Linked DNA regions of Homo sapiens: region 2 is linked to region 1. The links come from fine-mapping of genetic effects on gene expression. A gene starts in region 1. The other region holds a variant in brackets. All regions are shown on one strand. Distances are from middle to middle.

Region 1 (5,393 bases):
CATGGCTGTTGACACAGGCCCCATGTAGAGCAGTCCTATGAGAGTGAGAGGACTTTTTAGGAAAGTTTAGTCCATTGTCTCAAAACATACAATGATTTATACAATTGTAAACATTAAATACCATGCTCTTTCTCTGCCTTCAAAACAAATATTTAATATTCTCCTTAAGAAAGTACAACATTCATTCACTCTTATTACTCACTACATTAATGAAAGAGTGGCCTATTTGAATAGAAAGAGCTTGGCCTTTGGACTCAGTTCAACTTGGGCTTGAATAAACTTTACGGTCTTTCACTTACTAGCTGTCTCTTAACCTCTCTGTGCCTCAATTTTCTCATCAATAAAGTGAAGATGAATACAGCAGTTATCTCACAGGACATCACTGTGATGCCTCGATGAGAATCTATGCAAAGTATTTTGAAGAGTTTTTAGCACATGTAACAGCTCAGTAATTGTTAGATATTATAATTATAACTTCTACTTAACAAAGACAACATTTTAAGTAAAATAATACAATCATGCCTACTTTGTGGTGTGTTTTAAAGGTTACAGATAACACTGTATTTTAACGGTTCTAAGATGCTCAATTTCTCATATTTTAGCATCTCTGACATTGAAATGCCACTTACAATTCATTATTTATTAGAACTATATTTGGCAAAAATTTAAACAATCTTTTATTGGTACATAAAATAAGGAGGCATCACACAATTCAGGGTGCCTTCCATGAAGTGGAATATGGTATATACAACAGGACGATGGTAGTCCTAATCACAGGATTTACACTTAAAGAAATTTTAGCTTTTAAGAGTACTACGCAAAAGGAGAGTTGAAATAAAAACAACAAATTGTTAAAACAAAGTACTCCTTTAATATTTTAAAAACTTCAAGCCAAAGAAAACTTGGGATTCAAATGAATAGGTATGGCTCATTTTATTTTGTATTTAGATTTACAGAATGTATATTAATTCATATTTAGATTTATGGAGGGAGTACATGTAAATTAGGTATTTCCAATTATTCATATTACTATTTAAAGCTGTTATAAATTTCCAAAATCGTGGTTGGTAGTTATCTTTTACTAATTTCTCACTTCAGAAGTATTTTTGTTTGAAAGATGAGAGGAAAAGCTTCAATTGAGATTCAGTCCTATTACTCCAATTTTAAGCCTCTCATGTTGCTGAGGCTGAGCAGGTAAATGTGAAATTTTTAAGGATGAAAGGGTCTTGAGAGTTAATAGAATGTGTCTTCTACATAATAGGCATTCAGCTTACATGTGATAAATGGATTCAAAGAATGGATAAATATAGTTGGGAAGTTCAATATCTTAAAAAACTGCTATAAATAAAGCACTTATATTTGCTACTTTATTTTCCTAATAACAAAACTACACTAAAATGATTAATCTGTAATTATTGACATATATATAATAAATCTAGATATAATAAAAATATGTTTCTAATAAAATGTACATGTAAATCAACAAGCACAGATAAAAAGTTTCTCTTCTGAAAATGCTAAAAGTTCACAGAATATACTAATCCACAAAAAATAAAAATTAAAATATAGAAAGTGAAAAATTATTTTAATCTGTGCAAAATTCATATTCCTGCTCTTCCCCAAAATTATTTCATTAATAATAAACTTTTACTAATAACATTGTACTTGTTCAATGCAGAAATCAAAGATAATAAAAAGGAAAAACATTTTATATTAAAACAAATGCCCTCAAATAACAAATTTTATCATATTTCGTACATAATTTCAGATAACACAAGACCATCATCTGTATGTATAAACAAACTGAACTTTACCCTTACTTGGTACACCAAAATACATTTTCAAATGTCAACATACTTCTGTATATGTTTCTACATTCAGTGGTCACATTTTATCCCACGCTGTAAATTCACTGAAATGTATTTATAAAAGCCATTGTATGGATTCTTCTTAATACACTGATATTTTAAGCAGCGCTCAAAAAAGAAATTGTGTGTATGTTTCCTTATTTTCTAAAAATATCTTAATGTAATAGAATTGATCACCAACAGGCATATACAATTTTTTAAATATGGTACTTACCACCAAATTGTCTATTTGAAAAGTCATCTGCAACTTAAACTTTAAGCAGCAGTATAAATATCACTGCTCTTTATCCTCATAAACTTTGTGGATAGAAAACAGTATTTGATTCCTGTTTTAACTTAAATGCCTTCTCTAACGAGGAACACTAAATATTGTTTCCTGTGTGCATAAGTCACTTGCAGATCTAGAAGAAGGAGTTTGCCCAATTTTAAATTAGAGGCAAAGTACTTTTCTTAGATCTGCAATTTACATCTCTAATTTAAATTGCCCAATTTTAAATAGAGGATTTTTTTGTTGATTTGAGTGAATTCTCTGTAAAATGAAGATTTTTAAATCTGCTATATATACACACATGCACATACATGTGTAGTAAATATTTTACAAGTATGCTGCCTTTTATTTTTTCTCAAATGCAGGGTAATTTTTGTTTTGCTAAATTAACCTTCACAATGCTTATTTCTGAGAGTCTTAGAAAGGTTTTGTCAACATAAAAATGTATCTGTGTAAATAGGCATTTATATTTTCTTCTGATTTTTTTTCATTTTGTATATTAAAAATTTTTAATCTATATTCCATCAGGAACTTATTTCTTTTATGTACTGTAACTTTGGCATTTTTTTCTAGAGATCATCAAACCCAAGAGAGTCTAGATTTTCTCCTGTTATTTTCCAGAAGTTTTATAGTTTTGTATTTGACATTTAGGTCCGTGATTCATTTTGACTTAATTTTTGTGAGAAGGTAAGATCTGATTCATTTTTTTTACATGTGGGTATTCAGTTGTTCCAGCACCACTTTCTGAAGAAACCAACCTTTGTTTCATCATGTTGCCTTTACTTTTTCATCAAAGATTAATTAAATATATCGATGTGTCGCTATTTCTAAACTCTCTGTCTTGTTTCATTAACCTGTCTATTCTTTCATCAATATGATACTGCCTTGATTACCGTAGCCTTACAGTAAGTCTTGAAGTTGAGTAGTGCCTGTCTGTCCTCCAGCTTTGTTCTCCTTCAATATTGTGTTAGCTATTCAAGGTCTTTTTCTTCCCCATATAAGCTTTAGAATTACTTTTTCTATATCCATAAAATAATTTGCTTCCATTTTGATTAGAAGTGCATTGAATCTGTACATTGGTAAGAAATGACATCCTGATGATACTGAGTTATTCTATTCATGAATATGATGTATCTTCTCCATCTCTTCAGTTCTTTTTTTATTTCCATCATCACATATGGACAGTTTATGAAATTACATAACTCCCTCTACCTTGACCAAAGGACAGTGATGAATTCCTCGTTCTGCAGCCAACAAGTCACCTCTGAGGGCCATGTGTCTAAACATAGACAGGAGGGTAAGAAAATGATAAAGACATCCTGGGAAAAATAGGAAATTCGAGAATCAGCAACTGTGTCTAAGTAACTCCTTTCCATTTCCCCAGGACACCTGTTGCTTCAGCCAACACCTGCTGGCATGTGCTGAGGATGCTGGTGCTGCTGGCTTTCCCAGCCCTGCCCCCGGGGCTGCTTTGGGTGTGTGCCTCTTGACTTTAGTGAGAATGTACTTTTTCATCCCTACCATGGGTGAAAAGTTTTCACAAATAAAAACTTTTTAAAATAATGCCAACTTTTGTATTAGATAGAGGTGCTGCGTGTGCAGGTTTGCGTGTGTCTTTTTGGTAGAATGTTGTATTTTCTTTTGGGGATATTCCCAGTAATGAGATTGCTGGGTCAATTAGTAGCTGTGTTTTACATCTTTTGAGAAATCCCCAAACTGCTTTCCACAGTGGCTGACCTAATTTACATTCCCAGAGACAGTGAATAGGAGTTTCCTTTGCAGCCTCGCCAGCATCTGTTAACAAATGACCACTTTTATTCCAGACATAGATCATCTGTTAGTTTTGATTTTAGCACATCCTCTGAAGAAGATAGTGTTTTTCACAACCAAAGATGATTTCACCTTCCAAACGTGTTTTTTTTTTCTCATTTTCTGATGGCATGCGGAACTTTCTGTCTGCATCAGTTTGGGTATAAGTTAAGAGCATTGTACCTTGAAGTGTCCCATCTCACTGTTCCCATGCAGTGTTCTGTCCCAGAACTCTTCACTAGCTTTTTACCCCTGTGGGCCCAGTAGGGAGAGGAGCCCCCCAGAAAGTCTTTCACCAGGCAAGTGACGAACTAAAGAATTACACAATCATGTGTGACTGTTCTCAAAGCTCCCAAACATAGAAAGGGGGACAGTTGCAGGCAATACAGCTTTATTAATGGCAGTAACATCTCAGCTCAGCAGGAAACATACTGTGGGCTATGAGAACAGGTTACAATGAATATTGAGGCAGAAAAAGTCACATTAATCACATATTAGCCCCAAAATGCTCTTGCTCAAATGGTAACTGTCCTTCCTGCACATGTGGCAATACCAGACTTGCAGAAAGCACACGTGGTGAGAGACAAAGCCTGCTGCCTGTCTGTGAGCTTCAGTGCCCAATGAGACGCAGCAAGCTTTCGCCTCTTCTTTCTACACTCCTGCTTTTATTGCACAGTACTTTTTTACATATGTTTTATTCCATTTTTGAATGTTGTATTCCATTGGTCTTTCAGACTAATGATGAAACAACACAACACAATTTTAATTTCCAAGTCTCTACAATATTTTAAAGGGGAAGTCACTCTCTTTTAATTCTCAGACTTTTCATGGATATTTTAATTTGTTTGCTCTTCTTTACAATAAAATTTCTATATCCAGAACACAGATGTTATCTATATTGGAGTTAAAATCAACTTATTTTATTTTTTTTATTTTTTGACTTTTATTTTAATCTCAGGGGCACATGTGCAGGATGTACAGGTTTGTTACATAGGGAAATGTCTGTCAGCAGGGCGGGGTTGTTGTACAGATTATTTCATCACCCAGGTGTTAAGCCTGGTGTCCATTAGTTTTTTTTCCCGATCCTCTCTCTCCTTCCACCTTCCACCCTCCGATAGGCCCCAGTGTGTGTTGTTTCCCTCTATGTGTCCATGTGTTCTCATCATTTAGCTCCCACTTACAAGTGAGAACATGCTGTATTTGGTTTTCTGTTCCTGAATTCCTTTGCAAGATAATGGTCTCCACCTCCGTCCATGCCCTTGCAAAGGTACATATACACCATGGAATACCATACAGCCATAAAATCAACTTATTAATTAAAGTACTTTTGATGTCTTAATAATGTTGACCCTGCCTAATCATGTAATGTCATAATTTTTCATTTATACAAATCTATTTTTAGGTTTTTAAGAAACATTTCGCACCAATTCCATACTAATTAAATTATT
Region 2 (5,393 bases), 26 kb before region 1:
TGAAGCCATTCAATAGACTTCACAAAACCCCAGGTAAGTTGGTTAGATTTAACAGAGCTAAGCCTCATCCATCACTGATCAGTCTTCAGGTATAAAAGTAGGGATTCATGCTGGCATCAGCAGTACATATAGTAAAATTGAAACAACTTTGAGAAGATCAGCATGGCCCCTGCACGAGGATGACACACAGATCTGTGAAGTGTTGTATATTTCTTGCAGTTTCCAAAAGGGCATGTGACTACTTTCTAACTAGCTCCAAGGAAATGGTGTGAGTCAAAGCAAAATGGTTGTCACCCAGTATTGCAGTTGTGATTTTCATACAAGAAATATTGATGCAAGGTGATATATGAAATGAGATGTGGTAACACATAGGATCTTGTGTGCAATATGCTGTTAGTGCATCTCAGAAATGAGGAAATACCAACTTGCATCTTCCTTGTGGAACTTACAAAAAATAAAGGTAGCGTTTTTTCTTCCACAGCAGCTGGAAATGAGCATAGTGACTAAGCATCATTCTAACAAAGATTTGTTGATTCAGAGTTTCAGGAGGTAGATAAAGAGTAGTAATAGTCCAAGCCAGATGCTGACATCTATTAGTTTTCTGCCCTTGGTGTGATTGATGAGCTCAGTAATAGAGGCTAATCAGGTTATCCAATTTAATGAATTCATATATTTATAAATAAATTTCATTACAAATTATAAAATAGCTTAGATGCCTTGAATTACAAGCCACAAAGAATAGAACATCTAATAACCAAAAGTAGGAGTTAATAACAGAAAAGTGCAACTTTTGAACATTATAACCTACGAAGAAACTTTTTTTTGAAATTTATTTATGTTTTGTAGAGACAGGGTATCCCTATGTTGCCCAGGCTGGTCTTGAATTTCTGGGCTCAAGTTGTCATCCTGTCTCAGCATCCTAAAGTGCTTGCATCACAGGCATGAGCCACTGCACCAGGCCAAAACATTGGATTTTATTGGGAATTTTAAAATAGTTTCAGCAATAAGGTTGAACAACAAGGTATTTCATTGCTTCACTATTTATTCGAGCATTTTAAAAACATTATCATGTTGAATCTTTATAATAAGCTAGTGAAATCAGGCTCTAAAATTCTCATTTTTAGAAGACGTTGAGCCTAACAAGCAACTTGTTCAAGAAAAAATACCTGTTGGTTACCACACTAGGACTTATTCTGAATTAAGGACATTTTCCATTATGCCAAGCTAACTCTAGTTAATTTACGGAATTATGCTGACCTCAATTCATGAGTATTTCATCTTACTTTCTTTCTTCTTTTATTAGCAGCTTAATAAGTTCCTAGAGCTTACAAACTTAAAGTCTCTGGAATAAGTAATGTTCTGCTGTTAGCTCTGATATTGTCTGAAATAGTCTAAGAACTTAATAAATTTGGAAAATTTGGTAAATGTTAAAATAGTAATTTTATTTATTACATTTTTATACATAGCATTCATCAATGTCTTTTGGAATATAAACAAAAGATATCTAAAAATCCTCAAAATAGCAATCCAGGTAAGACTTCTGATAGTAAACTACTCTTGGTGGTGCTACCATAAGGTTATGGAAATGTTGATCATACAATAGCAATTAAAAAAGCAATGTGGAAATAGGATGTGTTTACATATATACATATGTGTGTGTGTACATATATATATATAGCTTTGATTCAATTTTTTAGTTTATAATTCAGAATTAGTTATAGGTAGTTTATAATCTCAGAAAATATTATCTGAAAAAATATGTTTTTAATTATGGTCCCTAAAATTTTATATAATACTTTTGTATAAATAAGTAAAACAATTTTTTTTTTTTTTTTTTTTTTTTGAGACGGAGTCTCGCTCTGTCACCCAGCCTGGAGTGCAGTGGTGCAATCTCTACTCACTGCAGTCTCCGCCTCCCAGGTTCAAGCTATTCTCCTGCCTCAGCCTCCCGAGTAGCTGGGATTACAGGCACCTGCCACCATGCCCAGCTAATTTTTTTGTACTTTTGGTAAGACGGGGTTTCACCATGTGGGCCAGGCTGGTCTCAAACCCCTGACCTCAGGTGATCTGCCTGCCTTGGCCTCCCAAAATGCTGGGATTACAGAGATAAGTTAGGTTCTTAAGAGATGTGTATTAAAAGCTCCTACTTTAATTATATTTTTATCCAAGTTTTTTTTTTAATTGTTTAAAATGTACACATTTTACTGTGTATTAT[T/TG]GTACATACAGATTTTTTACTTATATTTTCTTCAAAAAATAGCTTTTATCTTAACAATGATTCTATTTATTCTGATTTATACTTATAACTATTGATTTCAATTCACCTGACATTAATATTGCCATTCGTGCTTTCTTTTTGTTGAGTTTGCTTTGTTCTCACCTTTTTTTTACCTTTATCTACCTATCTTTATTTGTTTTAAAGTGTTCTTCTTATAAAAACAAACATGGTATAAACATATTCTGATTAATGTGATAGTTTCCGTCCTAATAGAAGTACGCAGACTGATCACATTTATTATAACAATTGATATATGTGATTTATTCCTTCTGTCTTACATTGTGCTTCATCTTTATTTTACTGTTGGCCTCCCCTAGACTTTCTTATCTTTTTCTGATTTGAAATCCACTCTTTTCCCCGATACCCCACACTGCTGTTGATTTGGAAACTTGACTGAAAAACAATTCTACAATTCCATTCATAGTTATCTTCTTTATTTGCCACTTTCATGGGAAAACAAGTTTTTCGATTTTTTCCTCACTAAGATTCTATTTGTCCATTGCTTTCCCCTTCATCCCAATAGATGAGACCTTTAGAATGTTTTTATGTTTTGCATCTAGTTACGTAGCTGCTAGATTTTGCTGAGATAGTTTAATATTTTGAACTTCAGATTATTAGTTTTTCCCTTGAAGTGTATCTGTTCTGTTTAAAGTGTCTTTGCCTTTGACACTCCCCCATTTCTCTGCTCACCACCACCCTTTTTTCATGGTTCCATCTTCAAGTCCCTGTCTTGATTATTTTCTTAAGTGTTTTGCCCAAACAGGATGGATAGGTGATATATTCTCTGAATCTTTGCATAACTGTTAGTACAGTTTTTATTTTGCTCCAACAGTTGATTGATATTCATTTGCATGTAACATATCATCATGCCTCTTTATCTACCGCCTGAGCCATATTCTCCAGGCTAGCTTTTATCCGTAGTAAGCTGATATTTTAATCTCTGTCTATCTACTGCGTGGTCTCTTATTCTGAATTTCGACTGAAGAGAAAAAGGAACATGGTTGCTTTTTTTTTAATGCAGCAATAAAGAATAAATAGAAAAATTTGCAATGTTTATAATTGCTTAAATTGAAATATCATATGTATATATATGAATAAGCAAGAATAATATTCTGAGTACATTAGTATTATATTGAACGTTAAATACTGATTGATCCAACTACTAGTCATTGAGCTCCTGGAAGCCAGGGACAACATTTTAAACATTTCTGTGTCTCTAATGTATTTGCTGGAAGACAAAATATATTTCTCTTCCTACCCTTCCTCTCCCCCAACTCCTCCAATCTAAAATTGACCCTGTTTTCAGTACAACAAGATTCCAGATGGAAGTCAAGGTATATAGTGATTTTATTAACCCCGGTAGCAAAAATATTGTTTCAATAAAGATAAAAATTTTACATTCCATCTATGGTTTCCTTAATTTAAAAATATATTGGTAATACAGTTATATAGTTCAAAATCAAAGTGATATAAAATGATATTCATTAAGCCATCTTGCTCCCACCCTTGTCTCTATCAGGTTTGTACCTGTTTTTCCCTGCAGAGTTCATGCATTCAACAAATATTTATTAAATATTTATTGAGTACTTAGGTGCTCATTGTGTGCCAGACACTGTTCTAAGTGCTAAGGGCACAGCAATGGAAACAACAACAACAACAAAAAAAAACCAGGAAAAATAATTGTGGCCGCAAGATGCTTACGTCTAGTAGGAGAGACAAATTAACAAAACAAATAAGTTATATCGAATATTAGGAGATAAGTGCTGCAAAGGAAAAGAAAACAGGTGTGCACCACCGTGCCTGGCTATTTTATTATTATTGTTTTTTTAGAGATGAGGTCCTGCTACGCTGCCCAGCCTGGTCTCAAACTCCTGGGATCCAGCGATCCTCCCCTCTTTGCCTCCCAAAGTACTGAGATTACAGGCATGAACCATGTGCCCAGCCAATATATATATTTTTTCTTTTGAGACAAGGTCTGGCTCTGTCGCCCAGGCTGGAGTCCAGCGGCTCACTGCAACCTCCGCCTCCTAGGCTCAAGGGATCCTCCCACTTCAGCCTCCTGAGTAGCTAGGACTACTGGTGCATGTCACCACACTTGGCTTAGTTTTGAATTTTGTTTTGTAGAAACAGGGTTTTGCCACATTACCCAGGCTGGTCTCAAACTCCTGGGCTCAAGAGATCCAGCCACCTTGGCCTCCCAAAGTGCTGGGATTACAGGCGAGAGCCACCATACTGGGCCAAGATTTTTTTTAATTGGTTAAAACAAAGGTTTGGTATTGCCTAAAATAACTAAACAAGGTGGTATTTTATACACAGTTTAGTCAAACTGAGTATTTTCTGTCTTCCTTTCAAACACTGATTCAATGTGATTTTTGAGTGTGTTTTTCTCATTATTTGTCTTGCGAAAGAATTTCCTCCTTATTTGAAGAAAAGATATAGTTTGAGGAGACAGTAGTGGCGCTTCGGCCGCGCCCAGGGCCGCGGTTCGCTCTTCCCCGCGTGCGACCAGGCTGCCAGCACTGGGGACCTCTGGCGCCCGCCCGTCCGCAGCCAGCGGGGACAGCGGCCGCTCTGGGGAGGCGGCGGGGCAGGGGCGAGGGGAGGCCCAGCCCGGGGTCCGCCGAGCGTGACCTTCCCCGGGGCGAACCTCCTATCCCCACCCCTTCCCGGAATCCGTGCAGGGGCACTGGCCACGCCTGCAATCATAGCAAAAATGTCCCAGTGGGGACCATTCAGTAGCAAGAAATAGCACGGCGCGCCACCCTTACAGTCACTAACTCTTTTGTTCTCCGTGTTTAGGTAGAAACATGACTCAGAGAATCGGGTTCCCGCTCTGCAGCCTAAGCCAGAGGCGATGGTTTCCGCTTCTGCTTCTCTTGGCAGTGACCTGCCTTGACTTGGTCTGCTGCCTTTTGCAATCTGCTCTTGAAGGAAGGGCCAGCCTCTCGCATCTTCCTAGGAACAAGTCCGACCACGATCAGGGCTATTGTGAAATTAGCTAAATTAGTCCGTTCTCTCGACTTTTGGACTCTCTCCTCTGAATGCCTTATAGGTATAGTTTGGCAATCTCGCTCACACCTGGGTGTGAACCTGCGTGTACCCAGCCCGGGAGATATCG

Alleles and levels. Alleles are on the strand shown, and positions count from the first base shown. SD is a standard deviation of normalised expression in the study named.
With allele TG in place of T in region 2, the expression in thyroid of the gene that starts at base 2,218 in region 1 is lower (large effect, 1.0 SD a copy in GTEx).

Evidence for each region. PIP is the estimated chance that this variant, and not a neighbour inherited with it, causes the effect.
Region 2: its variant is fine-mapped to the expression of LINC02673 in thyroid (GTEx, PIP above 0.99). The same link has a PIP of 0.9 or more in testis.

What each region holds. Positions count from the first base shown.
Region 1 is chr10:27,341,219-27,346,611 of GRCh38, forward strand. It overlaps LINC02673 (long intergenic non-protein coding RNA 2673), which reads left to right and starts at 2,218. Exons shown (of 2, transcript NR_187428.1): 1 at 2,218-3,433; 2 at 3,521-3,699.
Region 2 is chr10:27,315,013-27,320,405 of GRCh38, forward strand. It overlaps the pseudogene ODAD2P1 and the pseudogene RNU6-666P. Among named protein-coding and RNA genes, the nearest start is that of LINC02673, 26 kb to the right of the region's middle. The variant T/TG (reference allele first, on the strand shown) is at 2,216.